Regions from separate parts of the Homo sapiens genome. Here region 2 is linked to region 1. The links come from fine-mapping of genetic effects on gene expression. A gene starts in region 1. The other region holds a variant in brackets. All regions are shown on one strand. Distances are between the middles of the regions.

What was found.
Region 2: its variant is fine-mapped to the expression of PLEKHG4 in whole blood (TOPMed, PIP above 0.99).

Annotation. Positions count from the first base shown.
Region 1 is chr16:67,278,104-67,281,107 of GRCh38, reverse strand. PLEKHG4 (pleckstrin homology and RhoGEF domain containing G4) reads right to left here and starts at 1,576. Exons shown (of 22, transcript NM_001129729.3): 1 at 1,482-1,576; 2 at 565-1,232; 3 at 302-397; 4 at 103-226; 5 at 1-17. The coding sequence starts at 1,063. It overlaps LOC124903701 (a long non-coding RNA gene), which reads left to right and starts at 1,697. Exons shown (of 3, transcript XR_007065092.1): 1 at 1,697-1,959. RefSeq lists silencers at 1,543-1,724, 1,444-1,873, 1,924-2,083.
Region 2 is chr16:67,386,901-67,389,400 of GRCh38, reverse strand. No RefSeq gene overlaps it. Among named protein-coding and RNA genes, the nearest start is that of TPPP3, 5.3 kb to the left of the region's middle. The variant T/C (reference allele first, on the strand shown) is at 1,011.

The DNA of each region.
Region 1 (3,004 bases):
GTGCCTGTACTTCGGGCCTAAAGGGGTGAGCTTCAGTTCAGTACCTGACTCCCAGTCCTCACAGCTGGCTCAGGCTCAGTCTCCCAACCCCCTCCCTCAAACCTGGGGATGCTTCGCAGGTACAGCAGGAGGCGGATGAGTTCCTGGCTGCTGCACTCAGACTGAAGCCAGGCTGGGCTGTGGGCACACAGAAGCAGCACTGCCCGGCCTTGGACATCCCGAGTCCCTGTGGGGAGGAAGCAGTGAACTCCTGCCGTATTGGGCCACTCCACCTCCACCGCCTCTAGGCCCGCCTGGCTACCTGGCAAGGTGGCCATACCACTGGCCAGCAGCTCCCAACAGAGGTCTTGGGCCAGGAGGCAGTCAGCAGGCTTAGGGAGGCCGGATCCACTGGGGGCTTGGGAAGGGAAATGACTTGGGTCTGCCTTGGACCACCTATCCAGAGACCCCTACTTGGACCCGGGCTTCAGCCTGAGTAGGGTCAGAGACCTCCAAAGTCTTGACACTCATCTCTCCAGGCATCCCCATTCCCTTCCCAGACTTCCCTAGCCCAGCCTTCCTTACCTGCCTCCAGCAGCTTTGATATTTCTGATAAAGGGTCTCCAAGGCCCACAGGGTCGCTGTCCAATGCCCCAGGGCTCAAGCCAGATGGCATCGCCCTGCTTGGACCTGGGTCCCCTACCAACCCTACCCCTGGGGTGTCACTCTCACCCTGTGCCAAGCTGAGGTGGGAGGACATGGGGCATAGGAGACTCTCCACTCCAGAGGGGCCTGGCCCTTCTGACAGGACTGAGGAGCTTTCTACTGTGCCCCTCTGGGCATCCCCCGACTCATCTGCAGCTGGGGGTAACTGGAATTTCCTGGACAAGGGGCTGCCCTGTAGCTCCTCATCCTGGGTGGCCCCGGCTGGTGGTCTTGGAGGACCTGGGTCCTTAACGTGCATCTGGGAAGCAGGTTCCTCCTCTTCCCAGGCATCCCTGAAACTGCACACAGCAAATCTCCAGTCGGTGGCATGGCCCTGAGAGTCTGGGGACTCATCCCCATTCTCCAGGGGCCTTTCCATCACGCCCTCCTAAAGGTGGGCCTGCTCGGGGCCAGCGGGAGAGGGCTGGGTCTCAGTGTGAACCGCGCTGAAGACAGTCGAGTGGGACTCAGTGGGCAATGCAGGCGAAGGGCATGGGCCGCAGGAGGTGCCAGTCTTAGTGCCAGGGCACAGGAACTGCAATTCAGGCCTGGGAAGAGGGAATAACGTTAAGGGTGTCCCTCTGTCCAGGTCCCCCGTCGGACGCCCGTGGGCCTCTGCTCCGTGCGCGCCCACCCTCAGCGTCCTCACGGCCACGCTCTGCAGGCCCATGCCCGTGGGGGCGGCCCCGCCATGGCACCACGATGCCTCGGGTTCGCTCTCCTGCCGGCCCCCCCAGGCCCTGGCCTTGTTGCAGGGCCTACCGCGCGCCCCCCCGTCGCCCGCTGGCGACACTCACGCCCCCGGGCCGAGCCGCGGGGAACCGTGAAGTCGGACAGCCTTCGAACAGACGGCGGCCTCGACGGCCACTACAGCGCGGCCGCGCGGCGTCACGGGACACCGCCTCCTGGCCGCTGGGAAGGGAGGGCAGTGCCGCCGGGGCGCCGCGCAGCGCCGCGCCGCCCCCTGGAGGCCGGAGGACGGAGCCACAGCCCGAGCAGGTCTCGACGGGGCACAGCCCTGCCGGCGCGGAAGACAAGGTGCGGGCCCTGCAGCAACCCCCGCCCGCCGCCGTCCTCTCCGTGGGCCCGGACAGCCCGCCAGCCCCGCCCCGCCGCACCCCCGGGCCCCGCAGACCGCGCGCCTCACCCGCGGCGTCGCAGTGCGTGGGTTGGGGCAGCGACCAACGGTCGGCAGCTCCACCGTGCCCACTCCCCGGGCCTGGCGAGGACGCCGGAAGCGCTCTCCCGCCAGGAAGGCCGCGTGGGTGAGCGAGGGTGAGTGCGCGGGGGGCACCGCGGGACGGGGCGGGGCGGGGTCTCCCAGGGGCTTCCGCGGCTGAATGAGCCGACGGGAGGGGAAGGCCTTCTGTGTAGGGAAGCGGGGTGCTGCCTCGCCGCGGGCACCCAGAGACAGGTCGCATGATCCCACGTGGGATGGGGCTGCCATCCGGGTGGGAGTGAGACCAATGGGTGGAGCTGACCCAGGCCTGCCAGAGTCCACCAGATCCTCTACCCCTTTGCCATCCCTGGCACCCCCTTACCCCCTTCTCCACAAAGTCCGGTGCAGGAGGCTGGTGCTGAGGTGGGGTTCTGGAGCCAGAGCCCCCAGCCCAGGCCTGGCTTCTCCACTTACCTGCTGGGGGCGCTCCAGGAACTCTGCTCTTTGAGCCTCACCCTCCTCACCTGTAAAAATGGAAAGTCATTTTTCTCCTGGGGTTGCCGTGAGGACTGGGGAAGACTCCCTGTGTTATACGTTCACCCGCTGCCAGCACTCGGGCTGTGTTGGTGCCCTGCCCCCTCATTTCACCCGCAGTCAGGGAATCCTGAACTGATGAAAGCTACCCAAGTGGGTAGCTGTGCGATTTGAGGTCCCTTTAGGGCATGTGGGCCTGGCCCGACACTCCCCAGAATTTGTGGGAAGATTGTGGGAAGGTCAGCTCTGCGACCAGGAGAAGACCCTGAGCCCCACAGTGTGCCCAGGCCCATGGTCCCTGGGGAGAGGGGGCACCGGGTGCAACGGCTTCCCTGGCTCTAAGGCAGGCACCTCTTTCATGAACCTGGGGATTACAACAGGCACAGTGGGACCAACAGCAATCTCCCCACCCAGCCCAGCCCAGCCCCCAGAGTCCAGACTTTCAGGCAGCTACCGAGGAGCCTTCTTCATGAGCAGGTCTGGCTGCCAGAGGGGAGCCTTGGAGTTGTCCTGCTCCATCCCTAACTCCCAGCCAGACCTCTCTTCCCACCCTCCTGGCTTCAGGAAGCATCATCCAACCTTGGCTTCCTCCCCAGTTCTGTCCCAGGGCCACCCCCACTGAGTCAC
Region 2 (2,500 bases), 110 kb before region 1:
GGGTTCTGGCTCAGAATACAGAAAACGCAGGGCCAGGCAGAACCTTAGAGAGTAGCTCATCCAGGCCGGGCGCGGTGGCTCACGCCTGTAATCCCAGCACTTTGGGAGGCTGAGGCGGGTGGATCATGAGGTCAGGAGTTCAAGACCAGCCTGACCAACATAGTGATACCCCGTCTCGATTAAAAATACAAAAATTGGCTGGGCATGGTGTTGCGTGCCTGTAGTCCCTCCCAGCTACTCAGGAGACTGAGGCAGGAGAATCGCTTGAATCCAGGAGTTGGAGGTTGCTGTGAGCCGAGATCACGCCACTGCACTCCAGTGTGGGCAACAGACACTTTGTCTCAAAAAAAAAAAAAAAAAAAAAAAAAAAAAAAGAGAGTAGCTCATCTGACTCCGTAATTTTATAGCTGAGGAAACATCCAGAGAGGTGGAGGGGCTTCTGCAGACTAGAGGCCAGACCATGCCTCTTGCCTCCCAGGCCAGGCTCTTTCTAGCAAGCCCCAGCATTGACTTCCAAAACTGGGACTGGCTGACTGGTGATAGGGCTTGGCACCCAACACTAGCCTGTGGTGGGAGCAGGGCATCCCTCAGTAAAGGGGCCTCCTCTTTGATGTCCTCCCATCTGTTCCACATCCCTAGTGGGGGAAGGGAGCCTCTCTGGTCCTGAGGATGCCTGGGCGTTTCCAGATCATCTCACTGAGGCTCTGGGTGTTTTGACAGAGCTATTCCCAAGCCAAGGCTTTCGGGCTACCTCTCCTTCCTTCCTTGCTGTGAAAATGGGGCTGGATGGGACTTTAGGGCCTACCCAGGAGAGGGTGGCTCCCAAAGGGGCTAGAAAAGGTATAAAAGGGCCAGTTCCCAAATGCCTGCTTTCCTGACCCAGATCACAAGACAAAGCAGCACCATTGTTTATCCTCTCATCCCACAGTCTATTGGGGGATGCTCCTGCCCAGGTGGCCCCACATCCCTTAAGCCCAGCTTTCCTTGGGGACAGGGGTGTAGCGGAATAG[T/C]ATGGCTTGAGACAGGGATGTCAGGCGGGAATCGGCAGGCAGCAGGTGGGCACCTGGCCACAGCAGAGCCTTGCCTCACAGCGCGGCTCCTCCTGACCCAGCTGACCGCGTCTCCTTGAGTGGCCCAGGGAAGAGCTTCAGGGACCTTCAGGCAGATCCTCCCACCAGCAAATGTTAAGAGGTAGAATGCAAGGCGTTTAATGAAAAAAAAAAAATGCAGAGGAACAATTCCTCTAGCCCTGGAAAATTCGTTTGAATTGCAAGCTTAAAATGAACATAATAGGAGTGAAACCCAAATCCTCTGGCTTTCACCAGAACAGCCTCACAGGGAAACAAATTTAACTGTGTTCCAAATTGGGCCAGGCTCCCACTATTCCACTGCAGGTGACAGTACCATCCAATGGTAGAGGGCCCAGCGGCTTCTCCATTCCTGTGACTGGCAGTATGGCTTGGAAGAACACAGAGAGAATGGCTGAGCCCCAAAACCCCACGTCATAGGAGTAAAGCCGCCTCTTCTCGAAATGCCGTTATGAAGCCCGAGGGAATTTAAGGCCCACTCAGGGCTGGGAGGACCCTAAGACCAGACGGGTCTAGCAGAATCTGGCACATGACAGCCATTGCCCAGCAATGCCACTGCCCCTCCCCTAACAGCCTCCTTGTGGTTGAAAGCTTTGGATACCCTTGCTAGCAAAATCAGGTTAGACAAAGGAGAGGTTAGGATCAGAGGGACAGAGCCTTTAAAACCTGCTCTGTATGGCTGGGAGAACTCCCAACCTAAGAGTGGCTCTGCCCCTCCCTCTGGACATAGAACCTCCCTGAGGACCAGTCTCCATCCCAGACCTGTCCTGCTTTCTGGTGGTAGTGCCAGGCCTAGGGTGTGGGATTCTGCTCCACGTGTTTTCTGCTTGTTTAAAGGGTCCTCCGCTTTCCATGTTGAGTCCAGTTTGCCCTGAGCTCTTTGGCTCTCTCCTTAACATCGCAACCCCTACCCGTGCCCTGTAGAACAAGTGCCATACAGGGAAAAATCAGAAACAGATGACTTCCCCAGGAGTGGCCAGCAAACCTAGCAGGTGCCTGGCCTGGGGCAGGGTCGGTCACTTTCAATGACAATGGCAAATGGGGTGGAGGGTGGCACACACTGGGCCAGGCTCTTTGTTCCCCTTAGGAGGTGTCCTGAGTGGATTCTGGGGCTAGCACCATCAGGTGTTCATGGAGGAGGCAGGAAGGGCTGGGTTGGAGGAAAGCAGTGCATTATTCCTCCCTGCCCCCTGGTGTGTCCATTAGGTTGGCCTGTGCACTGGGCTGAGACCCTGAAATATAACAACTCAGGGATGCAAGGCCACTGGCTGATGCTCCCCTACCTGGGAGACAAAGACAGGCCCAGGAAAGAGGCAGCGGGGGTGCAGGGAGGCTGCTCTTACTGACATTTCCACAGAGCACAAGCTCGCTCTAGCTCCCTCAGAGCCTTGCAGCTCAAAGAAACTTCTGGC